Homo sapiens: one gene and its partners. The protein of the gene in region 1 interacts with the protein of each later gene in a pairwise test. Each region holds a gene or a part of one and is shown on either strand. Other genes may lie near its edges. The genes, in order: BMAL1, RORC, DHTKD1 and NPAS4.

Evidence for each region.
Region 2: the proteins of BMAL1 (region 1) and RORC interact in a two-hybrid assay, tested with the Homo sapiens proteins (one study listed by BioGRID).
Region 3: the proteins of BMAL1 (region 1) and DHTKD1 interact in binary tests that used the Homo sapiens proteins (3 or more experiments, as listed by UniProt).
Region 4: the proteins of BMAL1 (region 1) and NPAS4 interact in a two-hybrid assay, tested with the Homo sapiens proteins (one study listed by BioGRID).

Annotation. Positions count from the first base shown.
Region 1 is NC_000011.10:13,280,244-13,288,202, forward strand, and holds part of BMAL1 (basic helix-loop-helix ARNT-like protein 1), read left to right. Parts: intron 1-7,959. UniProt on the Homo sapiens protein: Transcriptional activator which forms a core component of the circadian clock.
Region 2 is NC_000001.11:151,806,844-151,814,802, reverse strand, and holds part of RORC (nuclear receptor ROR-gamma), read left to right. Parts: intron 1-107; coding exon 108-229; intron 230-1,100; coding exon of another isoform or gene 1,101-1,182; coding exon 1,183-1,315; intron 1,316-1,456; coding exon 1,457-1,564; intron 1,565-1,745; coding exon 1,746-1,856; intron 1,857-3,368; coding exon 3,369-3,478; intron 3,479-7,169; coding exon 7,170-7,331; 3' UTR 7,332-7,959. UniProt on the Homo sapiens protein: Nuclear receptor that binds DNA as a monomer to ROR response elements (RORE) containing a single core motif half-site 5'-AGGTCA-3' preceded by a short A-T-rich sequence.
Region 3 is NC_000010.11:12,064,378-12,071,953, forward strand, and holds the start of DHTKD1 (2-oxoadipate dehydrogenase complex component E1), read left to right. Parts: upstream 1-4,576; 5' UTR 4,577-4,656; coding exon 4,657-4,810; intron 4,811-7,576. UniProt on the Homo sapiens protein: 2-oxoadipate dehydrogenase (E1a) component of the 2-oxoadipate dehydrogenase complex (OADHC). Participates in the first step, rate limiting for the overall conversion of 2-oxoadipate (alpha-ketoadipate) to glutaryl-CoA and CO(2) catalyzed by the whole OADHC.
Region 4 is NC_000011.10:66,415,721-66,424,072, reverse strand, and holds the start of NPAS4 (neuronal PAS domain-containing protein 4), read right to left. Parts: upstream 2,894-8,352; coding exon 2,719-2,893; intron 1,954-2,718; coding exon 1,802-1,953; intron 1,623-1,801; coding exon 1,520-1,622; intron 1,400-1,519; coding exon 1,132-1,399; intron 951-1,131; coding exon 841-950; intron 834-840; exon of another isoform or gene 698-833; intron 496-697; coding exon 360-495; exon of another isoform or gene 239-359; coding exon 1-238. UniProt on the Homo sapiens protein: Transcription factor expressed in neurons of the brain that regulates the excitatory-inhibitory balance within neural circuits and is required for contextual memory in the hippocampus. Plays a key role in the structural and functional plasticity of neurons.

The DNA of each region.
Region 1 (7,959 bases):
ACTTACGAGTTTGTCTGCTATTTGCAGAAGAGGTTTGCATGCCACAGGGCAGGAAAAGGAAGTGGCCATGTTTTCAGATTTATCCCTTCACACCAACAATCTCTGTGGAATTTATATGCTAAAAGATGGAGAAGCACCATAGAAAGATTTGGCTGTATTAACAAAACTGCATATGAAAAGGTAAAAACTAGATAGTTAATATCTCTCTTTGGTGTAAGGGTTATAATGTATCTGAGCTTTCTTTGTGATTTCATCATCAACTCTCACTGTGGTAGGAAAATCAATATTAAATAAACAGTTTCAGCCCCGTGATTACATGCAGTGATTTTAGGAAGCATCATGATAACTAAAGTAGGTACTTGCAGGGAAGTAAAATATCCTTTCTAGACCTTGAGGTTTCGTTGGGAGCTAGGGACACAGGCATGTTATCCTTCTCCACAGTCTTTTTTCATTGTCACCTTATCACAAGACTCAGATTTATCCCAAATACCCACCTTGTCTTTTCTTCTCCCTCTCATGAAATAAGACCTGCTCTGACTCAACCCCCTCAGCATCTCTTACTTCCCACCCAAAATGTCCTGTCTCTATCCCCATCGTCCCCTCATCTCCTCCCAATTCAGAGAAAGCAAGTGGACCTCTCCTCTGTTCCTTTTCTTGGCCTCTCACCATGGGCAAGTGCCTGGGCTCTGGTGGCAGAAGAATCCATGGCTCAGGTTTGGGCTTTGTGGTCTTGGATGTGTGCTTGACTCCTCTGACCTCAGGTTTCTCCTCTTGGTGTAATGGCAGTGCCTGCCTCGTGGAGTCTGTGTGAGGATTAAGGGAGATGGTGCATGTAAAAGGCCTGGCACACAGGAAGCCTTTCCTTTGTGCCAGCTGCCATTCCTTCTCACCTCTACCCGGGTCCTATCACTAGAATATTATTTGTGCTGTTTGTCCTTAGTCTCCCCTGCCCCACCCTGAAAACCTTAGGCTTGACTTAGGAGAGGAAGGATGGAAGAGGCAGAGTCAGACTTGTGGTGAGCCTGCTGTGTACCAGGCAATTTACATGTGTCTTTACTTGGTACCCTGGGTTCGTAAGCCTCTCTTTCCTCCCTCCTGCCAGCCTCCCCCACTCTCCCATCTCCTGCTCCATTCTTAGTACCTGCCCTCTGGCTTCTCTCGCTACCACCTTTCTTTATATTTCTTCTCAAAGTTTTCTCCAAAACTTTGTCGTGAGTTCCTGGGGCCCATCTGCCCATCCTTATTCCTGAGTGGTTGTTCTTGGCCCCTTTGCAGTATTTCTTTTATTTTTTTAAACATGGTCTCAGTCTTGCCTGGTTGGAGTGCAGTGGTGCAATCGTGGCTCACTGCAGCCTCCCAAGTCTCAGGTAATCCTCCTGCCTCAGCCTCCAGAGTAGCTGAGCCTACAGACACGTGCCATCACACCTGGCTCATTTTTGTATTTTTATTAGAGATGGAGTTTTGCCATGTTGCCCAGGCTGGTCTCAAACTCCTGGGCTCAAGTGACCCACCTGCACTGGCCTCCCAAAGTGCTGGGATTACAGGCGTGAGTCACTGTGCTCAGCCCCTTTGAAGCTTTTACCTCACTTGTTTTTTGTCCTTTGAAATCCTTTCCTCTCTCAGCCTTTGGGTCATGCTGGTTTCTTGATTCTCTTCCTGCACCCCTGTAAAGATAAATGTCTGTCCTAGCTTCTGCTATTCACACTGTCCGTGGCCTGGGGTCCCCTCTCTAGCCCTGACCTGTCTCTCCTGTGTTCTGCTAGCAGGTCCGTTGTGGACATGAATGGCAGCCTGTAATCTGCATTTGTGGTCTCGGAGTTACAGGTTTGCAGACTGCTTGCAAGCACTGTCACATTGAGTCCTCATGACACACTGGAGCCTACATCCCTTCATTCCCCAGGCTGTCCTAAAAGGCAGTTTGGTTGGGTAGTTTAGCATACAGACTCTGGAGCCAGATTTCACATCCTAAGTATTCCCTACTGGCTTCGTGACTTGTGGTCAATTTTCTTTTGCTCTCTATGCCTTGGTGTCCTCATCTATAAAACTGGGATCATAGTAGCCCCTACATCAGAGAGTTGAGGTGTGGATTAAATGAGTTAAAGCATTGGAAAAAGTGTGCCAGTCTATTCATGGCACATTGCAAACACTCAGTGAATGTTGCTGTCAGTCTTGCTGCTCTTCGTTGCCTTGCCGGGGTGCCTTGGCCTGGTTTGTAGTGGTCTCCACATTCAGCCTGCCTGTCTGCCAGACCTTGCCATGTGCCTGGACACTGTAGTCAAGCTGAGGGGCTGTCCATTCCCTGTACCAGCCCTTGGCCCAGTCCATCCCTCAATTTTCACGTGTCCAAATCCTCCTCTGCTTTTAGGACCCAGGGCCTTGGTCCTGCAGCACTATTTCTTCATTTTGTTTTCCTTCCTCCCCACACCTGGCAGCAATGTCCACATTGATTTTTCTCCAATTCTCTTAGGTTCTGCTGCATTCCATATTGTGTTGGGCTGTCTCTGAAAATATCTCACCTGCTCGCTCAGCCTGAGCATTCTGGGAGAAGTTTATCTTGCTTTTTCCAAAATGACAGGCACAGGGAGCCTTTAGGCCATGGTTGTCCAATGCACATTGATCTTGTGGAGGAGGAGATGGGATGGGGTGGGCACTCAGGGACGGAGCAGGTGGAGGGAACAGGATGCACACTGCATAGAGGTGGGGGTGCAACAGGGCCATAAGTGGACATGGCCGTAAGTACTTAGGTCTGCATGGAAGGAGGGTTTGAATTGGGGACTTAACCTCAGGGGGAGATAAGATTGGATAAGGTTTAGTCATCTTTGCTGCAGGGGAACGTTGAGTACTGGCATGTAATGGAGAGTGGTTTTTACCTTAGTATGTGCTGTCCTTTTAAATAGTGTAAACTAATTCTTTATCTAGCCTGGTTAAAGAAGGGGATGGCTGGTCTGCCTAATTTAATATTTGGCTATTGCTCTACCCACTGGGTTTTGTGCATATACTGAATGAAGCATTGGCTTGTATTTATTCCTTCAATCACTGTTTGAAATGTCTGACCTGGGCAAGTTAATTAGCTTCTCTGAGTGCAAAATAGGAATAATAATTATTACGATAATAGCAGCTAACATTTATTGAACACTTTCTATGTGCCAGCACATATGTGAGTCACCTTTGCTTATTAACTCATTTAAACCCCATAACAACTACATGAGGCAGGTACTATTATCCTTACTTCACAAATGAGGTGGTTTTATAAACTGCCCAAGGTCACTCAGCTGTTATGGCTTGGGGCAGAATTTGTGCTGGTGAACTCCAGAGTCTGCCCTGTAACACCCTAGTAGATTCCTACTGGGAGGAAACACCCCGTTATATCCCTTACCTCACTCAGCCGCACCATGCCAGGAGCCTAGTAGGCTGACAGCAATTGGGAACCAGTCTTATTGTTGACAAACATGGTATGAGCCTCTTTTAGAGCGGAGCTGCCTGAAACCCTCCGCATAAGGGATGCGGACCTGGATGCTACCTGAGCAGCAGCTCCAGGGGCTTGTGAACATTCTCCTCACATCCTGTTATGCATGGCTGTCTCTCTGGCCTCCCCCTGCTTTCTCTGCAGCATTGCTCTGACCCAGGCCCCCTGTGGCTCAGCCAGCTCCTCCCCAGGCAGCTCCTTGTGTGAGATGAACCTTTTAACATAACTCACTAACCCCACCTCCCACCCTCATCTAGCCATCTGCAGAGCTCCTCACTGGGGAGGGGACCTTTTCAAAGGTCCCTCACCTTCGTCCTTTTCTCCCTGAAGACCAACGTCCACAACTTTGGTATATCCACAGTGTTGGGGTGTGTGTGTGTGTGTGTGTGTGTGTGTGTGTGTATATATATGTGTGTGTGTATATATATATATATGTGTATATATATATATGTGTGTATATATATATATGTGTATATATATATATGTGTGTATATATATATGTGTATATATATATATATGTGTGTGTATATATATATATATATATATATATATATATATTTTTTTTTTTAATGCCAGTTGTTCCCCAAATACATTTAGATAGTAAGGGACACATTGTTTTATGTCAAGAACCTGTTACATAAAAATGTGTTATATAATGTTCAAATATATACTGCACAGTGAAATTAGATACCACTTTTTTTTTTTCAAAGAATAAAAGGATAATAAACACAGGCCGTCCTGAATATAATTAACCTCAGATTTGGGAGGCATGGAAGGACGTGCCCTGCCCTCAGAGCTCTCGTCCTGAGCTCTGCCTTTCTTGAGTGCGCCGGGAGCAGGATGGATGGGAAGTTGGCCTGAATCTGCCATGGTGTGGTACTGTGAGATGCTCTGGAAATTGTCTTTTTTTTTTGGCGGGGGGTGGGGGATGCCTTCGCATCTTGCTCACTTGTATCTTTCTCACACCTAAGCAGAGGGAAGAAGCTCTTTTTGCCCCCTCGTACTTAGACCACCCAGGTCATCTTTTGACCAGTTTTCTGCTCTGCTCAACTCCTTTCAATCTTCCCAGATGACAGGCCAGCTTTGCCTGCTAAGAACAGCCCTGGTGCCAGTGGCATGCAGGTGGCACCCCTGTGTCCAGTCTTCCAGGCTCTCCAGGGTCTGGTCCTGTTCCTCCTCCCCAGCCCTGCTTCCCCGCTCAACCTCCATTCCCAGCCACAGCCCTGTGCCCGAGGTTCAGTCCTCCTTGCCTCTCCGCTGTCCTCCCTAGGCCACCTCACTTCACACTCTCCCTCTGGCTAGCGGGGTCTTTGCTTAAATTGTTCCCTTGAGGCCTCTCTTCCTTGCCCGTGCCTGCCTTGGATCTCACTTCTCTGTGAGGTACCTCTGATAACATTTGTTCCCTTTGTGTGTGCTCTCCCTTTTGCTCTTGATTGCCAACCATTCATTCGTTCAGAAGCAGGGGTATGTCATAATGAGCAAATTACCATATCATACTGAATCAGGATGGCCAGTTGTCTCATTTTTTAATTGTTTCATGGTTAATTATCTTACGCTCACTTCCCACTCTCCAGTTTCACTCAGTTACTCCGTCAGTGAAGTTTATTGGATGCCTAGCACTGTTGTGGGCACTGAGGATACAGCAGTGAACAAAACAAGGGGCCCGCAGGAGGGGACAGATGATGAATAGTGAAACACGTTCATGCCTTGTTGTGAGAAGTGCTAGGAGTGCTAGGATAGCAAGCAAATAGAGTAAAGCAGTAGCGATGAGGTATGGTGGGAGGGAGGGTACCTTATCTAGATCACAGGGGAGACCTCTCTGAGGAGGTGACATTTGAACTTAGCTTCAGAAAGATCTGGGGGAAAGTATCCCAGGAAGAGAGAACAGCACATGTAAAGGCCCTGGGGTTGAAAGGTGCTTGATATTTTTGAGGAAAGTAAAGGCTAGTGTGACTCGATTATGAGCTGCTTGTGTACAGATGTTTTCTGCCTCTTTTATACTCCCTTTAACCCTGAGCCCAGTGTTAGGAAGGCCTTGTAAATACTTACATACAGAATTATAGCATTTGTCATTGGTTATATATTATAAAATAGTAATTTTATAAAATAATAATTTATCATACCCTGCTTAGAAGGCTTTTAATAAAACATTATATTGCATATAAACAAATTAAGGGTTTGAAGGGTTTTCTTATAAATGCACTCCTAGCATGTTTCACCAAATATTACTGTTTTAATTGTGTTTAGTGCAGAACTTTAGACCTCATAATTCTGCTTCATGTGCACAACCATCTTAAAAACAGGTTTTGTTCCAAAAGTTTATTTGTAAGGCACTAGGTGGAAACTTGGGATAAATTTTTCTATAAGAAACAATGAAGTAAATAGTGATGTAGTTTCTAGGCGAGCCCTCAAAAGCTATTTAGTGGTGACTGTAGCTGAAAACATACTGGTTGGTATCAGCAGTCGTCAAGCCTTCTGCTGGTAGACCCTCCTCTCAGTAGCATTGTACCTCATTTGCTGTTAGCAATCATAGGACCCATTTACCTCAGTCACTTCTCCTACTGTATTTTCAGTCTGTTAAAGTTTTATAGAAGGGATTTTTTACCTTTATACCTTTAAGATTTGGTTGCATGTGTTATAAATGAGACAGTAGTGCAGAGAGTGGGGAAAACTCTGGACTGGGAGCTGGGAGAGGCCTGGGCTCCAGACTGGGCCCAGCCACTGACTGGCTGAGTAAATTTGAGTAAGTTATCCTCTTTGAACTTTGATTTCTCAGGTTCTTCTTGGCTGTAAAATCCTATTGTTTTCTCACCATAGCAGGGAAACGTAGATATACTTCGTTGTTCAAACCTGCCCTCAAATGGCTGCCTCTGATTTCTTCTTGAAGAAGTATATGGCACTCAGCAATGAGGAACTCAAGCAGTTCCCCATGTGCAGAGCTCTGCAGTGACATTCTCAGTAGGAACCTTGATTTTGATCTGCTATCTTTCTTGATGAGTTGAAAGAAATTTTGTCCCAGAACTTTTGGTCCAGATAAGATTTCTGTGTTCTTGGCCAACTTATCTTCCATATAATTATGTAAATTGTTTTTTCTTTTTAACTCTTAGGGATAAAAATGGTGACTCTGGCTTGCCTGCTTATAAAATATAGTTATAAGTGCCCTTAGGGAATGGAATGAGTTTGCAGGAGAGAGCAGAGCTGAAAGAGTGTGGGATCAAAAACAACTTTAAATGTTAAATGCAAAGCTATTTTCAGTACCCTGCTGGAAGAAAAAATTTTTTTCAAGGTTTTAGAGGATAGAAGAGGTTTTTGCTCCAAAGAAGAAAGGAACCTAAGGTTTTGCAGTGGTGAAAAGTACCTGATCCTTTAACCAACTACCACCCTCCCTTCCCACCTCTGAGTTTTGTTTTCGACATCATGAACCACATTTGCCATTTGAGAGGTTTGATATTTAAGTGACGTTAGTGGCAGAGCTCAACTGGCAGTGTTCAAATGACTTAGGTGCAGAGTGCTGTGCTGCAAACTTCCCCAGTGCATTCTAGGGTAAGGGATGCCTCATAGAGAGTGACAGAGCACTTTTAGCTCTGCCTCTATTTGGTCAGTTGTGAATGGTGTGTTCCTTTTTTTCCTTACTTGAAGGCATAGCGAGGAGTTGGTACAAGAAGTTATTGCTTCATGGACTTCACTTTGGAGCTAGAGGGTGGCATTAGACCTAGCCTGCCTTCTTGGATGCTGGAATACCAGTGGCAATGTCATCTCTTGTTCTCTGCTATACCCCTAGCAATGAAAACAGTGTCTGTACAGAAAAGTCTCTCAATAAATACTTGTTTATTCCTTCAAAAAGTGAATTCAGCTTTGGATAAATTTTTAATTTCCTCCACTCTCTAGCAGTATAGGCTTATGAGGTTGGTCTTGCAAGGTACTTTGGAGTTTAGGTTGCCATTTCTTTTTGACATCTGTGTTTTTCTTATTCTTCAGGTTGGTCAGGTATCAGTGTCTTTTACTGATGATGGTTGTCCCTGCCCTGCTGATGTTCATCTTCTGTTATCTTTAATTGGCTCCAAACTGCAGCAAATCTATAGCTGAGCCACATTAACTAAAAGAAAACTTGTTGCATATTTATTTAGGCATAGTACTACACATGTATTTATTCAGTCAACAAATATCTGTGAGTCTATATGCCAAGAATGTTACTAGACCCAAAGGAAGAGCAGAAATTGTTGTTGTGACCAAGGAGCCTGCAGTTTGATTGCCTTGTGGAACATCTTTATGAGCATTGTAGAAGGGAGGAGGCTTCATAGAACTGGTCAGGTTTTCACCTTTAAGGATGGTAGGATTTCGATTCACAGACAAGGTGAGGACAGGTATTTCCAGGAAGTGGCTGAGCGGAAACAGCATAATTAAAAACACAGAAGTAGGAATGGACCAGTTTGCATTCATGGACACAGACTTGTCTAAAATGGAAGGTTCTTAAATAATGGTGGGAATTTAAG
Region 2 (7,959 bases), on another chromosome or scaffold:
GCGGAGGGAGGAGGCGGAGCAGGATAGGCCAGGCTGAGAAGTGCCCTTGCATGGGTAGGCGTAGGAGCTGGCTGAGATCAAGCCATGCCTTCCTTCTCCGGCCCCAGAGCACCTGGTGCAGAGCGTCTGCAAGTCCTACAGGGAGACATGCCAGCTGCGGCTGGAGGACCTGCTGCGGCAGCGCTCCAACATCTTCTCCCGGGAGGAAGTGACTGGCTACCAGAGGAAGGTGAGGCCAGGAGACCTGCAGGAAGGGAACGTATCCCACCCCCACCGGGAGAGTTCAGAGATGGCTACCTGCGCACGACTGGGTCCTGGGGCAGGGCGGGACATCACAGACACAGGCTGGCCAACAAGCATGTGCACACCTTTTATGTACAGTTGCGAATGTGTGTATCTGTCTACACCCCAGCAGATGGATGAGCGCTTTTCCTTAGTTCTTGCCTATTAAAATTGTACCTGGCCTTCATCCTACCTCCTCTACCATGCAGACCTTGGTGCACCCTCCTTCCTCCTCTTCCATCAACAATAACAATAATCAGAACCCTGATTACCATTTGTTAAACACCCCTTCTCTGCCAGGCATTGTGCTAAACGCTTTATGTAAATTATCCTCAGCCCCTACCACAACCAACCTATGAGGGTGGCATTTATTCCTACTTTTAACAGACAGAAACTGAGCCTAGAGGGGTTAATAGGTTTCCTCAAAGTCACAAAGTGGTGGAACCAAAGTCAAATTCAGATTCATCAGGCTCCAAAGTTTATGCTGCCTTTTCGATCACACTCTCATACCACCTGCTCTAAACACACTCGTTTGGCACTTCACATTTGCTTCTCCAGGTTATTGAGACCTTGGGCATAACCTTTGTGGGGGAAGGGGCAGCTGTATGTCCTGTTCACCTCAACGAGATATACCTTGTTGGAGGGCAAAGCTGTATCTCATACTTTTTGGATTCCCTCACAACAGCTAACTCGGTGTCAGCAGCCGGTAGGTGCTCAGTGTGTGGGACTCACTGGCAGGAATCTGTGCATTTGTGCTAAGACCAGGCTTTTGAAAATGCTAGTTGAGAACATAGGAGTTCAGAGCCTACCCCTTGCAGTTTATTAGGTGGGGCTCCAGGGCTCAGGAGGATCACAGGGCCACACAGAGCGCTACAGCGGGACCCTCCTCCCTCCCTGCAGTCCATGTGGGAGATGTGGGAACGGTGTGCCCACCACCTCACCGAGGCCATTCAGTACGTGGTGGAGTTCGCCAAGAGGCTCTCAGGCTTTATGGAGCTCTGCCAGAATGACCAGATTGTGCTTCTCAAAGCAGGTGCCCAGGGATGGGTGGGCAGGCCTGGGGACAAGGGGACAGAGCCAAGTGGAGGGAGGTGGCTTAAGGAAATCAGGGGGACAGAGTCAGATCCTGGCTTTGCTTGACACTGTCCCTGCATCTTCTCTCCCCACTGCCCAGGAGCAATGGAAGTGGTGCTGGTTAGGATGTGCCGGGCCTACAATGCTGACAACCGCACGGTCTTTTTTGAAGGCAAATACGGTGGCATGGAGCTGTTCCGAGCCTTGGGTGAGGGGCAGGGAGAAATGAGAGGGAAGATTCTGATGCCAACCCCAGGCAAAGCTTTGTGACCCAGGGCACCCTCTTTTCAGGGCGAATTGCCCCCTCTGCTCTAAACACAATAAGGGCGGTGTCCTCGGGCACCATCGCTCCAGCCACTCTCTCACTTTTCTCATTTCCACTCCATCAGGCTGCAGCGAGCTCATCAGCTCCATCTTTGACTTCTCCCACTCCCTAAGTGCCTTGCACTTTTCCGAGGATGAGATTGCCCTCTACACAGCCCTTGTTCTCATCAATGCCCGTGAGTGTTGCTGGGCTTGGGTGAAGGACATTCAGGTGGCAGGGGCATGGCAGATATTGAAGAAGAGTCTAGACCTTCAGATGTAGTTAAATCTGGGAAATTGCTTTAAATAGCAGAATGAGCCCTACTCAGTATTGCTATAAAATAAAATGAGTTAAAATAAAGATTCAGAGGACTCTCAGAGAGGGACAAGAGCAGCATAAGGTGGGGTTGTGGGAAGTGGGGAGAAATGAGGTTGAGAGGAAATGAGCCACTTTCCTGACAGAAATGTGTCTGATTGTTAGTCTATGGCAGTGATTTCATTGTAGCACACATCAGAATCACCTGGGGAGCTTTAAAAACTATTGCTGCCTGGGTCCCACTTCCAGAGATTCCAGTGTACATGTGCTCCATGACTTATGATGGGGTTATGTCCCAATAAACCTATCGTAAGTTGAAAATATGGTAAGTTGAAATTGCATTTAACACGCCTAACTTACTGAACACCATAGCTTAGCCTAGCCTACCTTAAATGTGCTCAGAATGCTTACATTAGCCTACAGTCTGGCAAAAGCATATAACACAAAGCCTATTTTATAATAAAGTGTTGAATAGCTCATGTAATTTATTGAATATGGTTCTAAAAGTGAACAGCAGGATGGTTGCATGGGTATTCAAAGTATGGTTTCTACTGAATGCAAGTGGCTTTCTCACCAACATAAAATCAAAAAATAGTAAGTCAACTCATCATAAGACTGGGACCATCTGTAATTGATAAGGGGTGCACTGAATTTTAACAGCCACCCCCAGGCCACCAAGATTAAGAATCACTGCTCTGTGTGAACTAATTTTAAGGCTGTATGCCTATAATAGGAAGACTCTGGATATCCTATCCACTCCCCTGGCATGGAGTAGCTGGGCTGAGCCAGATGAATACTAAATATTCAGAGAACCTAGGGAAGTGGGTCAAGCTGCTAACCTGAGTTTGCAGATCGAGACTATCAGTCTTCTGGCTCTGCCAGTGAGTGGACACCTAAATATGCCCTTCAAACTAGAAGATAAAAACTTTAAAGATGACTTCTGGATATTTTATAGAATCAGGGCAAAAGTTAGTCACAGATTGCTGCAAGCCCCCTGGTGCAGGCCTGGGCACCTTCAGGAAGGCCACCTCCTATCAGGAGCCCTTTTCGTACATGGGGGAGCTCTTTTCCAACTCTTGTTACCCCTATGACAGAATCCTAGTGCCTAGCATTGAATGAGCTATGTGGAATATCAGGTTACCAGGGAGAAGGTAGCTTGGAGTCAGGAGATCAGAAATTCTCATACCTTTCATCTCTTCCCAGTTTTCCTTGTAGACAGCTAGCCAAGCCCAACGTCCAGAGCTTACCATTATCAAACCAAGGCACACACATGCACGCGCTCAGCTTAGAAGACCTCTATCCAGCACAGATGTCCACAAAGATACACCCTTTTGTTGGGAGTTAATGTCCATGTTCTTTCTTGTTCTCATTACGGTCCCACCCCCTCCTCCAGATCGGCCAGGGCTCCAAGAGAAAAGGAAAGTAGAACAGCTGCAGTACAATCTGGAGCTGGCCTTTCATCATCATCTCTGCAAGACTCATCGCCAAAGCATCCTGGCAAAGGTAGGAGCAGTCCCTGGGGTAGAAGAGGCCAGGCCCATCGCTAGCTCTGTAACATCAGAGTTTGCGAGGGCCGGGGTCTGTGGGTACAGAGGAGGGAGTGCGGGAGTACCACTCTCTGTTAGAGAGCTTGCATCAGCAGTGGGAACTAAGGGAATGAACAGCTACTTCCACGTGCATAAAGACTGGAAAGTTAGAGGGCCTGGGATTGGGAGGGACCTCCAGGGAACAATTCAGTTTAATATAGCCAGCACTTACCCAGCACCTGCTTGTACAAGGCACTGTGGAAAGACACAGAGATTTGGTCGCTGCCCCCACCAAGAGATTTTAATCTGGTATGAAGAAGAGATCTGTGTATCACTAACTCTAACATAGAGTAGAATGTGGTATGTGATATAATAATAATGCAATTAACAGAGTGCTTTTGCTGACATGCTTTCTCATCCTCATGGCAACCCAGTCAATAGGACAGGTGTTCAAATCTCCCTGTGTAGCAGCCGGGCACAGTGGCTCACGCCTGTAATCCCAACACTTTGGGAGGCCAAGGCGGGTGGATCACCTGAGGTCAGGAGTTCGAGACCAGCCTGACTAACATGGTGAAACCCCATCTCTACTAAAAATAAAAAAAATTAGCCAGGCATGGTGGCAGGCGCCTGTAGACCCAGCTACTTGGGAGGCTGAGGCAGGATAATCGCTTGAAACCGGGAGGCAGATGTTGCAGTGAGCCAAGATTGTGCCATTGCACTCCAGCCTGGGCAACAAGAGCAAACTCTGTCTCAAAAAAAAAAAAAAAATCTCCTTGTAGCTATCAGGAGACTTCAGTGACTTAAATGCAAGATTGAATCCCAGTGCTCTTTGCGCTCTTTCTATCCCTGTGTCCCCTATGTATAACTATAATAAGTGACACCAGGAAAATGTTATGAGAGTATAAAACAGGGATTAAAAATAATTTGGGGGTAAAAGGAGTGGGTCATAAATACTTCCCAGGGAAGATGACATTTATACTAGGCCATGAATGATGTAAGATTTTAACAGGCATTCATGGGGGTGGGGCAGGCATTCCAGGCTTAGGGAACAATAGGAGCAAAACAAAAAAAATGAAAAAAAATCCTTTTCCTGAGGTTTAACCAAAAAAATGGATGAGATGAGTATGAGAGGCTGGGGATAATTGTTTTATGGGATTTGGGTGTGGGACTAGGGTACAATGAAGACCAAGAACAACAGGAGAAAAATAAGGAGGCAAAATAGTGTGTATGTGGAGAATCACTCATGGTACATCCTCACTAAAGTGTAAAATCAGGAGCTGGGATAGACTGGTGGGGCAGAAGAGCACCAGATGATCAGCCTGAAAATTAGGTCAGGGGCAAATCAGAGAGGACTTTCAATGCCATATAAGCGTTAAAGCTTTATTTCTAGGCCACAGGGAGCTCCAAAGGCTAGAAAAATGACACAATCAGAGCTGTCATTTAGGCAATTTACTTTGGAACCAGTATAAAGGAACCATTTATGTAATTATTCAAGCAGGCCTTTGCTATGTGCCAGGCACAGGGCTGGGTGTTAAGGATACAGCAATGACTTACACGGTCTGTGCTCTCAAGAACTTGAACTTTAATCTGCTACAGGATGGATTTGAAGGAGGAGAGACAGGAATCTGGGAGAGCAATTGGAAAGCACATCCGGTTGGATCTGCTTTCAAAATACATCACCTTCCCTACTATTACCACCACCCTGGCCCCTACCAGCTCTCAGCTTTCACTTGGACTTTAAGAGAGGCCTCCTAACTGAGCCCCTGTTCCACCCTCATCTGCCCTGTAGCAACCACACCTACTCCGCACCCACGGTAGCCCTTTTAAAAATGCAATCTCATCATGCCCTACTCCTGTGGTTTTTTTCTTGTTTTTGTTGTTGTTGTTTGTTTGTTCTGTTTGTTTGTTTTGAGGCAGACTTGCTCTGTCGCCCAGGCTGGAGTGCAGTGGTGTGATCTCGGCTCACTGCAACCTCCACCTCCCAGGTTCAAGCGATTGTCCTGCCTCAGCCTCCTGAGTAGCTTGGATTACAGGGATTACACGCCCGGCTAATTTTTGTATTTTTAGTAGAGACAGGGTTTCACCATGTTGGCCAGGCTGGTCTCGAACTCCTGACCTCAGGTGATCTGCCCACCTTGGCCTCCCAAAGTGTTGGGATTACAGGCGTGAACCACCACACCTGGCCTTGACTCCTGTTCTCAGCCCTCCTGTAGCTGCCTGTGATGCCGAGAATCAAATCTAGAGTCTGCGTCATGGTCAAGTGGCTCATAACATGATCCCTGCCTTCTTTTCTCACTTGATCTTCCACTGCCCCTTCAAACACCCATTGCAGCCACACTTGCTTCCTTGCTATTCCTCGAACACATCAAACCCAGTCGCAGGGCTTTTGTACCTGCTATTGTAGTCACCTGGAGGGTTCTTCCCCCAGTTTTCCAAATGGCTTACCCCATCTCTTCATTCGGGAGAGGTTTTTCCTGACCAGTAACCCCATACAAAAAGCTTTAGTTTTCTTTAAAGAACTTATTATCTGATACACTACATATTTATTTTCTGGGCCCCTCACCAGAATGTAAATTTAATCAAGGTACAGATTATACTTTATTGACTGATATATCTGATATATCACTAGAGGCCATCACAGTGCCTAGCTCAGATCCAGATGTGTTCTCAACAAATATTTGTTGAATGAATGAAGGAAGCTATTGCCATAGCCCAAAAAAGCTCAGAATAAAGCAGTGGTGAGGAAGAGAGAGAATCTAGGAGATATGAAGGGATCACACCCTGCTGCCTGCTTTTCTCTGACTGCCTCTTTCCAAGGAAACTAAGCTGGGGGAGGGAGGCAATGGCAGGCAAGAGACATTTTTAAGCCTCTTGGTTGTAGAGGAGACTGCAAGAGATAAATTGTTCTTTCAGCCTTGCTCCAGTGAGGTCTCCCTGCCTCCGTCTGCTCACTGGTTTCTGTGCCTTTTTCATCTCCCCTTTGGCTGAGTGCTGGCAGCATTGGTTTGCTACTTGCAGTGTTAGGTGCCTGCTTAGAAAGTCTGTTTAGTTCAAAGAGTTATTAAGCATGTGCCATGTGCTAAGCATTATGATAGGTACAGAGGAGACAGGGAAAGAGAGACCTCAGCCAAGGAGCTGAAATCTAGGGTGGGAAGGCAGACAAATTGGACCATTTTCCTGCAATGTAGTAAGTGCTACACAGAGGAAAGCCCAAAAGAAGGGCCCTTAATCCAGATGGGAGGCAGTTAGGGAAATAGTCTTAGGAGAGGTGACACTAGAGGGTAAGGATTAGTAATGGGAAGAGGGGAACAACATGCACAAAGGCAGAGGCATGTGACAGCATACAACAAGAGTCACAGACAATCACTCTTATAAAAGCAGGAAGTGCACATTAGAGTCTTTGACAAGGTTCATTCTAGAAGTATTGGGAACATAAATTGAGGGCTTCACCCAGAAAACATTCACCTGTGCCCCACCCACTCTCACTTCCCTCCAGTGTCCTGAACACACACGTACTTCTACCAGTGGGATTTGGCTGGTGCCAAAGTGCCAAGTACATAAGGGGAAGGCAAGGAGGGTTTGTCCTAGCCCAGGAAGAATGAGCGGACTTCTTTGCTCTGAGGAGAGCTGAAGTATTGACCCTCCCTTCCCCATTAACCCATATCCAGCTGCCACCCAAGGGGAAGCTTCGGAGCCTGTGTAGCCAGCATGTGGAAAGGCTGCAGATCTTCCAGCACCTCCACCCCATCGTGGTCCAAGCCGCTTTCCCTCCACTCTACAAGGAGCTCTTCAGCACTGAAACCGAGTCACCTGTGGGGCTGTCCAAGTGACCTGGAAGAGGGACTCCTTGCCTCTCCCTATGGCCTGCTGGCCCACCTCCCTGGACCCCGTTCCACCCTCACCCTTTTCCTTTCCCATGAACCCTGGAGGGTGGTCCCCACCAGCTCTTTGGAAGTGAGCAGATGCTGCGGCTGGCTTTCTGTCAGCAGGCCGGCCTGGCAGTGGGACAATCGCCAGAGGGTGGGGCTGGCAGAACACCATCTCCAGCCTCAGCTTTGACCTGTCTCATTTCCCATATTCCTTCACACCCAGCTTCTGGAAGGCATGGGGTGGCTGGGATTTAAGGACTTCTGGGGGACCAAGACATCCTCAAGAAAACAGGGGCATCCAGGGCTCCCTGGATGAATAGAATGCAATTCATTCAGAAGCTCAGAAGCTAAGAATAAGCCTTTGAAATACCTCATTGCATTTCCCTTTGGGCTTCGGCTTGGGGAGATGGATCAAGCTCAGAGACTGGCAGTGAGAGCCCAGAAGGACCTGTATAAAATGAATCTGGAGCTTTACATTTTCTGCCTCTGCCTTCCTCCCAGCTCAGCAAGGAAGTATTTGGGCACCCTACCCTTTACCTGGGGTCTAACCAAAAATGGATGGGATGAGGATGAGAGGCTGGAGATAATT
Region 3 (7,576 bases), on another chromosome or scaffold:
TGTCGCCCAGGCTGGAGTACAGCAGCACGATCTCGGCTCACTGCAAGCTCCACCTCCCGGGTTTACGCCATTCTCCTGCCTCAGCTTCCTGAGTAGCTGGGACTACAGGCGCCAACCACCACGCCCGGCTAATTTTTTTGTATTTTTTTAGTAGAGACGTGGTTTCACCATGTTAGCCAAGATGGTCTCAATCTCCTGACCTCGTGATCCGCCCGCCTCGGCCTCCCAAAGTGCTGAGATTACAGGCATGAGCCACCACGCCGGGCCTCACAATCTTTTCTTTCAATTATAGACAACGCTACAATGAATATGTACAAAATTGTGTGTGAATGTGTACATGAAAGTCTGTTCTTTGTATGAATTCCCAAAGGTGGAACTGCTGGGTCAAACAGAATGTATTTTATTAATTTTGTAAGATATTCACAGTCTGCCCTCTGTATAGTTCGTACCACTTTACATTTTTACCAACAATGTATGAGAGTACCTATTGCCCATACCTTTACCAACACAGCATGCTATCAAACTTTTAGAAACATTTTGAACTCTGCCAATCTACATCAAGTATTCTCACCTGAGGTCCACAGGCCTCAAGAAGGGGTTTCTCTCCCTGTAGTACCAAAGTCCACCTTCCATACAAAATCTCAGTTTCAAGCATCCCACTATCTGACCACCAGTTCACTCATTCTAGTGTCTGCACTTCAACTCTTTGCCTCTTGTTACCCTCAATCCACTGGTCCTATCAATTTTTCAGTGTCAACCTCCCTTTTGCTTGTCCCGTTACCCAGCCTAGTTTCTATGGCTCAATGCTGTGAACACTCCCTTGCCTAATGTCTTCATCAAACCTGCTAAGCAAAACCCCATACTTGGGTAAATTCATCTCCATTCTGCCCTGTACCTGCAAAGGGAGCTGAATATATCTGGAGAAAAACTCGCAACCATTCTGACTGGTCTTGAAGCCTCAGTGGGCTGTTGGCAACCCCCAAATCATGACTGTTCCCGATAAGTCCTCTTTCTCAGCCCATTGTCTCAAAATTTTTTCTTCCCTTTCAAACCTCCTCCCATATCTCCTCACTCCCTCTTTCAGCTGCTGATCTTGCTTTTTCACCAAAATTAGAAGCAGAAAAGAATTCCCATATCCTTCCATGATCAAATCTATCAATGCACATGAGTATGTATCTGATTCTTTGCTTTTCCTTCTTTTTTTTTTGAGATGGAGTTTCATTCTTGTTCCCCAGGCTAGAGTGCAATGGCAGGATCTCGGCTCACTGCAACCTCCACCTCCCGAGTTCAAGCGATTCTCCTGCCTCAACCTCCCGAGTAGCTGGGATTACAGGCGCCTGCCATAATGCCTGGCTAACTTTTTTGTATTTTTAGTAGAGGTGGGTTTTCACCATGTTGGCCAGGCTGGTCTCGAACTCCTGACCTCAGGTGATCCACCTGCCTCAGCCTCCCAAAGTGCTGGGATTACAGGCATGAGCCATCGCGCCTGGCCTCCTCTTCTTATATAAAATGTCCATGCCCCTGACTAAGATTATCTTTTCGTTCGTGGATCAACTTGAGGGACATTGATCCTGTAATTAACCCCTCCTTTCTACTCAAAGCTCTTTAGATTATCCAGTTATCCCATATCTATTCTTCACTGCCATCTCCTTGGTGTGCTCTTGTCTTTGTGCATTTGCCTAACTCCTCATGCCTCAAGATTCTGTTCTAATTTCCCTTCCACTTGCAGGTTCCCCTAACACACTCAGATCTCAGAAATTTTCTTTTCCCACAGCCCCACCCGTCCAAAGAGCTAGGTTCCCACAGGTTCACAACCAAGGAATAAAAAAGACAAGTCCGGCCAGGCGCGGTGGCTCACGCCTGTAATCCTAGCACTTTGGAAGCCTGAGGCAGGCTGATCACTTGAGGTCAGAAGCTCAAGACCAGCCTGGCCACCATGGTGAAAACCCTTATCTACTAAAAATACAAAAAAATTAGCCAGGGCTGGGCACGATGGCTCACGCCTGTAATCCCAGTACTTTGGGAGGCCGAGGTGGGTGGATCACCCGAGGTCAGGAGTTTGAGACCGTCCTGACCAACATGGAGAAACCCTGTCTCTACTAAAAATACAAAAATTTGCTGGGCATGGATGGCCGGGTGCAGTGGCTCACGTCTGTAATCCCAGCACTTTGGGAGGCCGAGGTGGGCGGATCACGAGGTCAGGAGATCGAGACCATCCTGGCTAACATGGTGAAACCTCATCTCTACTAAAAATACAAAAAATTAACTGGGTGTGGTGGTGGGCGCCTGTAGTCCCAGCTACTCGGGAGGCTGAGGCAGGAGAATGGCTGGAACCCGGAAGGCGGAGCTTGCAGTGAGCCGAGATCGCGCCATTGCACTCCAGCCTGGGCGATAGAGCGAGACTCTGTCTCAAAAGGAAAAAAAAAAAAAGATTAGCTGGGCGTGGTGGCGCATGCCTGTAATCACAGCTACTTGGGAGGCTAAGGCAGGAGAATCACTTGAACCTGGGAGGCGGAGGTTGCAGTGAGTGGAGATCTCGCCATTGCTCTCCAGCCTGGGCAACAAGAGAGAAACTCTGTCTCAAACAAACAAACAAACAAACAAAAACAACAGCAACAAAAATTAGCTGGGCGTGGTGGCAGGCGCCTGAAATCCCAGCTACTCGGGAGGCTGAGGCAGGGGAATTGCTTGAACCCGGGAGATGGAGGTTGCAGTGAGCCGAGATTGCCCTACTGCATTCCAGCCTGGGCGACAGAGCGAGACTCCGTCTCAAAAAAAAAAAAAAAAAAAAAAAAGGAAAAAAAAGACAAGCCCTTGCAAAACCAGGTCCAAACTAGCAAGATGGGGAGGCCACCAAAGTGTGGACCTAAGGGGTCCCAGCTACAGTAGCTGTGCTGGATGACGCTCCTGTGCTTGCAGGGGGCACTTACATGTGCCTACATTATATAATCTATCATCCTGTGTGCTGAGTTCTATCTACAGCTAGACTGGGAACTAAGGGCAGAAACTGTGCCTTATTAATCTTTGTAACCCAGCAGAGTGCTTTATGAGTGTACTGGTTGAATGAGTAAGAAGGAGGATGTCTTGGGCTTGTATGTATAATATTCCTAGGAGTTTGGGGTATAGCTGCACAGCTTACTGGAACGAAGGATGACTAACCAGGTAAGGATGCAGACTCTCTCTCCTACCATACTGGCAAAGTTAAAAGTAAGCCACAGAAAAAAAATCATTTGGGAAACTCACTCAGAGACAGACCAACTAATCGTTCATGTCCAGTTTCTTTTGACTCTTATCCCTTTCTTCCCTGCTCCCTTTACCCTATTTCCTTCTTTCTCTCTTAATGTTTTTTGTTTGTTTGTGAGACAGAGTCTCGCTCTGTCGCCCAGGCTGGAGTGCAGTGGGCACGATCTTGGCTCACTGCAACCTCTGCCTCCAGGGTTTAAGCGATTCTTCTGCCTCAGCCTCCCGAGTAGCTGGGACTACAGGCACCCGCCACCACACTCGGCTAATTTTTGTATTTTTAGTAGAGACGGGGTTTCACCATAGTAGCCATGATGGTCTCGAACTCCTGACTTCGTGATCCGCCCTCCTTGGCCTCCCAGAGGGCCTCCCAGAGTGTTGGGATTACAGGCATGAGCCACTGCAGCCTGTTTTGTTTTTTTTTTTTTGTTCGTTTGTTTGTTTGTTTTTGTTCTGTTTTTTTTGAGACGGAGTTTCGCTCTTGTTGCCCAGGCTGGAGTGCAATGGCGCCATCTCAACTCACCGCAACCTCCACCTCCCGGGTTCCAGCGATTTTCCTGTCTCAGCCTCCCGAGTAGCTGGGACCACAGGCACCCACCACTACGCCTGGCTAATTTTGTATTTTTAGTAGAGACGAGGTTTCTCCACGTTGGTAAGACTGGTCTCGAACCCCCGACCTCAGGTGATCCGCCCGCCTCGGCCTCCCAAAGTGCTGGGATTACAGGCGTGAACCACCGCGCCCGACCTAATTTTTGTATTTTTAGTAGAGATGGGTTTTCGCCATGTTGGACAGGTTGGTCTCAAACTCCTGACCTCAGATGATCCTCCCGCTGTGGCCCCCCAAAGTGTTAGGATTACAGGCGTGAGCCACCGCGCCCGGCCTCTGTTAATGTTTCTTAAGAAAACAAAAAAATTAGGGGTATTGATTTTGTAGCTGCGCTAAGTAACCTTTGCTTTTTGCGTCCCTTGGTCTCAGTCCTAGCCATTTCCTATCCACCCTGTGGCTAATTTGTCCTTTCTGTAACAGACACCCTAGACTGTGTCTATGCGGTTGGGCAGAGGCGTGATGGGTAAACACTCCTGGCGGGAGACTACAGGCGCTGCAGCTACATCCTGTTTCGTACTGGGAGCAGGTGCCGCCCCGCGGAACACTTACTTGCCCCGCCCTGCGGTGGAGCAGGGCGGTCTCAGCCGCCGGAACCGCCCTGGAAGCCCGCCCCAATCCTGGGCGTCGCTTCGCTGTGAGTGCCGCTGCCACGGATTGGCTTCCAGGGTCCGGCCCGTCGGCCAATCAGGCGCGGGGGCGTTGTCTGGGGGCGGGGCTCCGGCCGCCTCTGACGAGTCCCGGATTTACCAGGGCCGGTGGGATCCCCTCGGGCTCCCGCCTTAGCATGCTGGCCGGGACATCTGGTGAACATGGCCTCTGCTACTGCGGCAGCAGCACGACGGGGCCTCGGCCGGGCTCTCCCTCTCTTCTGGCGTGGCTACCAGACCGAGCGGGGCGTTTACGGCTACCGGCCGAGGAAGCCCGAGAGCCGCGAGCCCCAGGGCGCCCTGGAGCGCCCCCCAGGTCGGGGATGGGGCCCGGGCGGTGGGAGCGGGGGCTGGGACGCAGAAGCCTCCCCTGGCCGATTTGCGGTGGGGTGTCGGGGTCGGGGAACCGGCTGCCGGCCTGAACGCGCGGCCGGTGGGGAGGAGGGGGAGGTGAGGGGAGCAGAGGGTAGGTGTGGGTGCTCAGTGTTGGGGTCATCCCCCGTCCATCCTCTGTAACTGAGGATCTTTGAGGTCCACGCTTGGGTGGTCTTCCCATCTTGCTGGTCCGGACCTGGTTTCGGAAGGGCTTTTCTTTCCTTTGTTGGAAACGTGTGAGAAACTCTTTTTTTCTTTCTCTTTTTGTTTCCTTTTTTTTTTTTTTTTTTTTTTGAGACGGAGTCTCGCTCTGTGGCCCAGGCTGGAGTGCAGTGCTGCGACCACAGCTCCCTGCAGCCTCGAACTCCTGGGCTCAGGCTATCCTTCCACCTCAGCGTCCCGAGTAGCTGGGGACACAGAGGGATGACCACGCCCAGCTTTTTTTTTTTTTTTTTTTTTTTTTTCATTTTTAGTAGAGATGGGGTCCCACCATGTTGCCCAGGCTGGTCTTGAACTCTTGAGCTCAAGCTGATCCTGCAGCCTCGGCCTCCCAATGTGTTGGGATTACAGGCTGAGCCACTGCACCCAGCCTAGAAAACCAGCTCTTTAATGAGGCGGAGCTGTGGGAGAAGTAAAGTTTTAAGGTCTCCCAAGGATACATTTCCAGGACCATCTCTGAGGCTTCTTTTATGTGAGCAGGTGGGGGGGTCCAAGACTGCATTGCTTGGGAGAAGTGGGCAGTTAGTTCCAGTCTTGGAAGACAGCATGATATTTATTATGTATTTGTCTCCTTGTAGCTAGTCTGTTACTTTAATTTCAGAGTTTAACTCTTAACTCTGCTGAATTTGGAACTATGTGCTGGTGGGGTTTCTTTCTTTTCCTTTTAGCCACTCTATTGACACCTTGATATGTGCTGGTGGTTTTAATGAATTAACAGTCATGAATATCAGCTTTTGGAACTTCTGTTGCATGCTCATTTGCGAGACTAATTTTGAGTATTTGGTTTACGCTCCAAAATTATTGTATCATTATTTATCCTCACGGAGTAGAAGATAAGTACAGATTGCTTATTAGAGGAAAATCATTTGGCATCTTTGATCTGATCATTAGATTAATGTTGAAGATCCCCTTCGGCATCTGGGCACCTGACCTTGGAATGTTCCATCAATCACACACTAGAACTTCAATATTTTGCTCTTCACTTCGGAGGGCATTTAAAATAAACCTCATATCTCTGTCTCTCTCTCTTTTTTTAATCCTAAAATGGAGTCTGGCTTTGTCGCCCAGGCTGGAGTGCAGTGGCACGATCTTGGCTCACTGCAACCTCTGTCTTCTGGGTTCAAGCGATTGTCCTGCCCCAGTGTTCCGAGTAGCTGGGATTACAGGCACCTGCCACCATGCCCAGCTAATTTTTGTATTTTTAGTAGAGATGGGGTTTCACCATGTTGGCCAGGCTGGTCTTGAACTCCCGACCTGAAGTGATCCACTGGCCTTGGCCTCCTAAAGTGCTGGGATTACAGGCATGAGCCACCGTGCCTGGCCAAGAGGGAACCTCCTTTTTGCAGAGCCGAATTCCCCTTCCTGTCTACTTGCTCATTAGGGAGCTCCAACTTGACCTCATCTTTCTTCTTGGGCCTTCCTGAAAGTGACAAGATACAATGAACATACGCTCCTGAGCTACAGGCTTCAAGGGCATGTAGTCTGCCTCAGTCCTGTCCTACAGGACAAAAACCAAATGTTTTGTCCTGTAGCATAACACTGCCCATCAGCTTTCTAGGTGGAAATACCTGTGTCCTTGGTACCCATTGCCTGGCTGCTAATCCAATGCCATATATATTTTTAGGCTCTGTTAGGGCAGCAACCCACCTCTGGTACCAAATTCTGTATTAGATTGGAAGAGTTCAGGTGCTGTGATATACAAAGAGAAGGGATATCTTCTTTCCTTCCCCTTACGGTCATGACCCAGAAGTTGCATACATTGCTGCTACGTTCCCATTGTCCAAAACTTAGTCACATGGCCACCAGGTTATGGGGAAGGCTGGGAGGTGGCTCTTTGTTCTGGGTGGCCATATACTGGGCTCTCTATTACTATCAAAGAGAGGGTTCAGAATGGAAGTTAGGAATCGTAGCAGTCTCTGCCACAGAGGTATAGTAATCTGAGATGAGCAATCCACCTTTATCTTTTTCACCTCATATTTCACATCAAATCTTTTTAGTTTTTATTTTTTAAATTTTATTTATTAGGCCGGGCGCGGTGGCTCATGCCTGTAATCCCTGCACTTTGGGAGGCCGAGGTGGGCGGATCACCAGGTCAGGAGTTCAAAACTAGCCTGGCCAACATGGTGAAACCTCGTCTCTAGCAAAAATACAAAAATTAGCTGGGTGTGGTGCAGACGTGGGGCCAGGCACAGTGACTCACGCCTGTAATCCCCGCACTTTGGGAGGCCGAGACAGACAGATCACTTGAGACAGGGTCTTGCCATGTTGCCCAGGCTGGTCTCGAACTCCTGTCCTCAGGTGAAATGCTTGCCTCGGCCCCCTAAAGTGTTGGGATTATAGGCGCGAGCCACCGTGTCCAGCCCCAAATAATTTATACTTCCTAAGGAATGAAAAGAGGGTTCTATATACGCAATTTATTTGTGACATATAGTACATTTGCATTTTGTATGTGCAAACGTAACATTAATTATCAAGTATCTTTATATGT
Region 4 (8,352 bases), about 53 Mb from region 1:
GGAGGGTCGGGGAAGCTCTTCTGATGCAGAGACAACACTCAGTTCAGGAGCACTGGGGAAGCTGGTGCTTCTGGGAGCCCCCAGTGCTGCGGTGAAGAGTGGGTTAGTGCTGGAGCACTCTTCCTGGGAAAGAATGTTTTCAGGGAATGAGGGCAGCATGGTCGGAGTGCCCAGGACATAAGCTGCCTGGGTGTCTTCAGAGTTCAACTGCTGGCGGAGGCTCCAGGCTTCCATGTCACTGGAGAGGAGAGAAGAGGCAGCTGGTAAGGGTCCGACGTCCATATCCAGAGCAGTTCCCTGATTTGTGTCTCCTCCATGACGACCTCAGCTGCCCCCTAGTCCCCTGGCTTGTGGCTTACCTGATTGGGTAGTTATTGGCAGTAATGGGTCCCTCTGGACCTTCTGAGTATAACAGGCAGTAAATCCATGCCCAGCCTCCAGTCTTGGCCTGTAGCCTCACCACCATCTCTGCCTGAATATCTCCACTCTCAGCCACTGGGGAGAAAGAAGATGCAGAGTTAGGATGTCCACCAGGCAATTCTACCTACTCCCCACCCTTGGTCACCTCTCCACTGAATTGAGATAGCCGTGACATCCTCTCTTCTGACTACCCTCACCTGAACCACTCAGCTCTCTACCTTGACCTCACCACTCAGAGTCCCCCAGTTCTGATTTGATTATTGCCTTGAATCCTCACCTTCATGTTCACCCTATAGCATCCGAAACTGTTGGCCTCTGTTATCTCCCCAGCATCACTCTTGACTACAGATCATTCTTTGTCTGGTCTCCCATGCCCTTTCCCAGCTTGCTATCTTGTCCCCAGCCTCTCTGGACACTCACACAGGCGGTAGTGTTGAGCAGAAGCGTGGGCCAGGTCCTCGGGGTGCAGCAGTCCATACCATGATTTACAAAGCAGTTCACTGCGCTCAAAGCCCAGGTAGATTAGGACACTGGGAAGGTGGAAAGGGTGAGGTCAGCTTTCTGTTTTCCTTGCTTGATACCCATGCATCTCACTCCCTCCCAGATCCTCTGCCCCCCTAAACCCCATCCTCCCTGCCCCTGACTCCAGAATCTAGGGTCCCTTCATCTCTGGCCTGCCTTTCTCTTGGAATCTGAACACTCCAGGCTTACCTCTCGGAGATGTCCAGTAGAGCCAGGTCTTTAGCATGGCGGCTCTGGAACATGGCCAGGAAGAGCGAGGCAGGGCCAGGGCCAGGGCCAGGACCTGGGCGGGGTCTCGGCTCCAGAGGGGCACAGAAAGCTGTGAACACGGGATTTCCTGCCCAGTAGGCTCCAGGTGGGTGAGCATGGAATCGGCCTCGAATAAGCACGAGTTTGTTGCCTGCACTCTGGCGCCTGAGGGACTTGGAGGTGTTGAAGCGGCAGCGGAAGAGGCGATCTAGATAGATGAAGAGAAAAACAGATAAGAGGGTGAGTGGCTGAGAGAGAGACAGTGGATGGTGGGGAGAAGGGCAGCAGGTGGGAAATTGGACCGAGGAAGGGAGAAGGGAGTCCTTACCAGTGTCCAGGGCAGAGGGCAGGGTGAGTTGCTGGCGCACAGTGAGGTGGTCAGCTGGGTCAATGATGTCGTAGATGCTGTCACCCTGGGCAACCAGGTCCACCTGGAGGGAGGAAAAGAAGAGATGACCATTAGGGAGAACAGCAGGAGCCAATCTTTGATCTACAGTATCTTGTAGGGTATAACCTCTCCCTCCATAGTAATTCCCAGTTCCTCAGGAGTGGAAGGCTCACGGCACCCACTCCATGCCCAGCCTCAGCTGAAAGGACCCTTAGCACTCACCATGGAGTGGCCCAGATGCTCGCTCACACTCTCAGACAGGTAGAGCAATTTCCCCTCGGCTGTGAACACAAGCAGAAAGCCGGGTAGTGCCGCTACGATGTCCTCAAGCTCTTGAGCTGAGAGAAGCCCCGTGGGGCCCGCCAGAGGAGTGCCTGTAGGGCGAGAAGACGTAGTGCGTCAGGAGTAAGACTGGGAGGCAGAGAAGAAGTGAGGAAGGCATGGTCTGAGTTTCAGAGAATCCAGAGGAATTTCTCATGGACCTGCCTCTGCAAACACCTGTTGACCCGCTGCCCGCAGCTCTTGGCCAGGGAACCTGTTGCTGTATCTCCATAGCCCACAAGCCCTCGACTTCTAAAGCGGGGTCGGCTCCTCTCGGCTCTTAATTTCAGAACCGCGGACAGAGCTCCAAAGCGGCTCTGAATTTCAGAACCGCGGACAGAGCTCCGAAGCCGACTGTGGGTTCAGAACCATGGACAGAGCCATACACGGCCGGCGCAGCCGTCAGCACCATGGGCAGCGCCCCGAAGGCGACAGGAGATCCCTTTCAGCACCGCGGACAGTAGCTATGTTCCCCTAGGCTCAGGCAGCTCCATCCCTGCAACTTCCCGGGCTTCCCTCCCCGGCTCCCGGAGCGCTTCTGCACTGGCGGGCACCGAGGCCGCTCTGTCCTGGCTCTTATCCTCTCATAATCTGGTGTTAGGGACACCGTCCAGGCTCTCTAACTCTCATTCAGAACTAAGGTGAGGTCTGGAGGGAGCTCAGGAGGAAAAGTAGAAAGTCCCGAATCTCCCGAGTCCCGAATCTCCCCAGCTCGCCAGCACGCTGCCCTAGACATGCGACAGCCCCAGCGGGTTCCCTCAGCTCCAGGGTCTCCGGCGCCTGGCAGCTCGGATCTGCGGTAGCCCCAGCATGCTCACCACCAGCGAAGAAGACGCCCTTGCGAGTGTAGATGCAGGCGAGGCTCATGATGTGCAGGTAGGACAGCCGGACCTTGTCCGCTTCGGCCAGCGGCAGCAGCTCCTTGAGGTTCCGGATCTCGGCGTTGATCTGGTCCCGGCGCGCCTTGGAGGCGCCCTTGGTGGAGCGGTACATGACCGGCGGCTGCGGAGCTCCAGCTCGGGTGCCCGAGCACCTGCGCTCCCGTCCCGACGCACCGGCGGCTTCCTCCTCCGTGCTTCCCCGTCTCTCGCTCAGGCTCGCTCTCTGCTCTCCTGGGCTCCGCTCGGCTGCGCTGCCCCCCTCGCCTGCCTCACGCCGCCTTATATAGCTCCTGCCAGGCGTGGGGGGCTCGTTTTAGAGCCGGGGGGGCGGGAGAGCGGGAGGCTGGGCTAAGCAAGCTGCAGCGGGAGCCGCTGACTGGGGAGGGGGGCTCCTCCTCCCGCCCGGCTTCCGACGTCATCTCATGACGTAGAATGAGAGAGGGAGGGAGGCGGGCGAGGGGGGAGCAGGAGGCTGCGGAGGGGGCCAAGCCTGGCGGGAGCTGAGCGGAGAGGAAGGCGCTGCGTTAGGAAAGCTTGAATGGAGTGTGGGGACCCTGGCGTCTGAATGCGTTCAGTTGAGGGAAGCGACAGGGCCAGGTTTAGGGCGGCCTGAAGCCCGCGGCAGGAGTCCGCAGAGGGCAGAGAGGGGCCGGCACTGACACTAATTTTTCTGAGGAGTTGAGGGAATGGGGAAGAACAGGGTTGTCTACAAATCCCCCTCGTTACTTGACAGACAAGGTCACGTTCACATGCAGGGAAGGAGGACTTTCCTTGGCCTCCGTGGGACAGGTCACTGCTGGGGTTCCTCTCTGGGGACTATTTAACCTGGGATTCCCTTGGCCATTTTTAGAGAACAAATTCCCGCCCCCGCTTCCCAAATCGGGCCTTGGCGGCTTATCAGGGGGTGTTCATGGGGGTCTAAGTCCCGAGGATGGGTGGAAAGGGAGTCCGGTGGGAAAGGGACCAGCTGAATTTGGCGTTGATCCTGTTTTCCCACAGCCAAGAATAGAAACCAACATCAGCGCTGTAGTCTGCAGTGATTCGTGGTTTCCCTCTCAGCTAATTAACCTTACTGAAGGGGAAACTGAGGCAGGGACGTGGGGGCACGGCGAGGACCTGGGTCTGCACTTAGGCATCCCTTCCCCCCGTTGCCGGCCCCCAAGCGAGCGCTTCCCCCCGCCCTGCTGCCAGCCTCTGTCTCCCCGCGGGCCGGGGGCGGGGGCGGGGCCGGGGGAATCCCAGCTCCATATTAGGACAGGAATCCTCCGGCGGCTGCCGCGGCTGCGGCGGGCGGGGCCTGGCTGCCTCCGCACCGCTCCGGAGGGCTCCCCGCCCTGCCTAGGCGGGCAAGATGGGGGAGCAGCTGAGAAGCGAAGGGGCAGCGCCGGACCCTCCATGACCCCTGCACCTACCAGGGACCCTGTATTTTTGCCAGGTTCCCTCCACCCCTCTCCACATTTGCGCCTCTAAGGCTCCTGGCTCTGCCTCTCCACCTTCAGCTCTCCACTTTCCACCTTCGTTTCTTTTTCTGTCCTTTCATATCCTTTTCTATCCTTTTCATATCCTGTCACCTTTGCCCTATCCCCACCCCCCCACACACCCGCTTTTTTTCTCTTTTCACCACAGATGATTGCTCTCTACAGGGGCGAGGATGTGCCGTTCTTATCCTGGGATTCAATAATGCAAGAAGCAAGTGGGCTAGGGAATGTTCTTATCTGAAATCTCGTTTGATGGAGTAGCTGTGTGCGCATGGAATCACTTAAGTGGCTGGAAATGAGGCCACTTAAAAATTGGAGGGTGGGACTGGGAAGTCCCAGTCACACAGGAAGCATGGAGATGAACTTTGACATCAAAAAGGACAATTTGGGGCCAGGGAACTCTCCGCTCCTCATGGAAAGGGGTGGTAGTAAGAGAGGTAGAGTGGGAGGAGAGGCGGCTGAGGAGAAGTATGTCTTAGAAGAGGTGTACAAGGTGTGGAGACCCTATTCTGGTGTCTTATGCATTTTGGCAGAGGTTGGGGCCATCCTGTGGTCAGTGTCACAGCTGAGGTGGAGGGAACGATGTCCGCTTATCTGTCTGCCACTGTCTCTAACCCCATTGACCTGGATGACAGAGAGATGATTCCTCCTGGACATGGGTCTGTGTTGCTTCTTTCTTCTCAATCTGACCTCTAATGTACCTACCCACCCCTCTCTCAATCTTCCATTTGAACAATCCCTTGATCTTTGGATCCCCTTCCGTATGAAATTCCAGGGGGGTTGTTCCTGTGTTCTTCATTCACTGATGCTAAAGCTGCCTGTGAGGCATTCTGAGTGTCCCCCTCCACAATAAGAGGAGTCTACTGGCTGGGTGTCATGGCCTCCAGCAATCTGAGCGAATCTGCAGTGAAGGAATACTGCGCCGACCGCTGTCCGTGGTGCTGAAAGAGTCACCATGGAAGTCATGCTACGGTTTGCCGGGGACATCGACGTAGGGCTTGGGTACCCACAGGCCTCAGAGTGAGCCTACTCTTTGACTGTCCCCTTATTCTCTGTGAATGAATATGGAGGGTTTGCAGGGGGCCAAGATTTCTGGGCTCTAAGGGTGAAGTAAGCAAGGGAGGAGAACTGGGCTCAGGGGAAGAGCCCCTGGCTTTTTCCAGGAGAATGGAATGGGAAGAAACACTTTGGAAGGGAAGAAGGGTCTAGAAAGGGACAAGGGAGGGGGTAGAGAAGGGCTCATCCTAGTTCGCCCACTCTGATTCAAGTTGAGAAGCTCTGTGTGCCCCAATGTCTCCTCTCCCTAGGCCAGCTCCCACTCCCCTTGCCTCCCACCTCCGTGAAGCTATTTTTAACTGTGCAGAACCAAAAATAGCTTGGCAGCAGCTTCAGGCCGTGGGAGAGGAGCTATTTATATCACCAGTGACGGTTCCGAAATAGCAAGCAGGAGGAGGGGGGCGGCTGGCACACTAGAGAGCTCCTGGCCGCTGCTAAAAATACTGGCAGTGTGAGTCATCCTGGCCTGGCTGAGTCACCCCACTCTCTCCCCCAAGTGGCAGGCAGCAGCAGAACAAGCTAAGAATTAGAAGCCTGAGATGGGGGAGGCATCAGAGCCTGCTGGCTGTGGGAAAGTGGGCAAGGGAGTGAATTGGGAGAGGGGCTTTGGGGTGAGCGTGTAGAAGGAATGGGAGAGCAAGCCTCTCAGCCAAACCTACTGGGCAAGCGTGCAGCATCCTCAGCTATGCACTACTGCTCAAGGATGCTTGGGCAATTGAAGGAAAAGAGCCAGACTCTGTGTGTGTGTCTGTGTGTTTGTGTGTGTGTGTGTTCATTTGACTGAGACTGTGTTTGTGTGTCCTGTGTGTCTGCCTCCAAACCTGTCTGGAGGTGGTTGGATGTCTACATCTCTATCTGTTTGCATGTGTCTTTGTAGCTGCGAGTCTGTACCCCTGTATATCTATGTTTACCTATGCCTGCATCTATGCTTGTCTTTTTTTTTTGTCTCCAACTTCCTATGTTCTGTGCAGTTCTATGTTTGTGCCTGTGTGTATTTATGTCTACAATTTTCCATATGCCTTTCTGTCAGTGTCTGTGTTTGTGTCCATATCTGAGTCTGCTCTGGGTCTTTCAGCATCTGATGGTGTGGTGGGATGTACATGCGTCCCCAGACTCAATATAGCTTCTGTTGCCCTCTCTGAGGTCACCCGTTGAGTTCCTGCACCATCTATATCTTGCTCACCTCTTTCCACCTAACATCTTCTCCTCTTTCCAAAGGCCCCCTAACCATTTGCAAAGCTCTCTTGTTGCATGCAATCTCTAGTAAAAACATGGAGGAAAGGAGCCCCACATGACCTCTCCCTTTTCTCTTGAATCATCCTGAATTCTCCCTGGCCTGCAGGAGTAAGTGGTTTTCCATCACTCCATATTTGGAGAGCTGAGAGAAGAGAAGGGCTTTCTTTAGTTCTAAAAAAAAAAAATTCCTGGTGTGGGCACAGGCATGTGTAGCGCGCATGCACACACACACAGGCGCACATACACATGCACGCACACACACACAACTGAGAGAATGAGAGAGAGAAAAAAATATCAAGGTCCCTTCTTTACTGAGACGAGCTCGCATCTGTTGCCATAGCAACCCACCCACTCCTTCCCCGAAAAATCACCGAGAAGAGGTGATGGCATCGAGGAGGGATTGGCTGATTCCTTTCTTTATTATTTTTTCCGAAAAAGGGTTTTTGTAGCAAAAACAGGCCGTGAGATCCCTTGCTCCTGTCTTGCATAGCTTTATTGGGAAACTGGGGGAGGGGCATCACCCCCCAGCCTTTATCAGAGAAGAGGAGGTGTATCTTTTCCAGAGATTTGGAGGAGGATTACCTCCTGGGAAGGAGTTGAAGGGTGGGTGAGGAATCTGCTTCTTCAGAACAGCATGGAGACTCCTGGCTGCTAGTCTGGAGATTTGGAGCAAGGATCTTGACAGAGGGCTGTCAAAGTGTGATCTTGTCTTGCTCTGGACAAATGTGTCTATGAGAAAGAGAAAGGGGGAGGAAGGGAAGGGAAGTGGGGAGAGACAGAAAGAATATGAATGAATGAATCACTGAATGGGGCTTCAGAGAAAATGACAATATGCCAAAGGATGCAAGCTTGCAGTAGTGGTCAGACCAGACAGGTGGGCAAGATGGTCCAAGAAAGATGCATTGATGCAATTGGTGGTGCTGCAAGTTACCAATGAGACCACAGCTGCAACTACTTAACTTATGGCCATAGGTTAATGTTCCAGAGGAGCACTGAAGCCCATTTTTCATAGTTCTATTCCCAGCCTGAGTCTCCAAGGCCTCCTCCAAAGCCTGGCCACCAGCCACTGCAGCCATATCACTCTCTCAAGTGAACTGTAGCTTGTTGCCAAATGACTGGATGGTGGAAAGAAAGGGATTCCTTGTTTCCTCCCGTGCTTGGCTTGCTACAGAAATGGGGTCACTTGGGGCTCGAGCTTGGAAAGACAGATGAAGAATCTGACCCTGGAGAGAGACACCTTCCTTTCTGGCAGGCTGCTGCTACCCTCAGCAGGCAAGGGCATGGCCAGCTGAGGTTGGCATGGGCAGTGGGTGCAAATCCACTTAACGTTATGAAGCAGAGGGACAAAAAGACTTCAGATTTGCTCTGGCCTGTTAGACACATTCTCACGACAAATCTGGCTGATATCATTATTGTTATTTATATACAGTCTTGCTCTGTCATCTAGACTAGAGTGCAGTGGCCTGATCATAGCTCACTGCCACCTCAAACTCCTGGGCTGAAATGATCTTCTGTGTCAGGATCTCGAGTAGCTGGGACTACAGGCATAAACTACTACACCCAGATAATTTAAAAAAATTTTTTCTGCCCAGGCTGGTCTTGAACTCCTGACCTCAAGCAATCCTCCCACCTTGGCCTCCCAAAGTGCTGGAATTACACGTGTGAGCCACGACACCCAGCCTTGACTGATATTATGATGCTCATTTGATAGATGGTGAAACAAAGGCTCAGAGATAGATAATGACTTAATCAAAGTCACACAGCAAGTCTGGCAATGCTGAGCCTCACCCCTAGTTCCTGC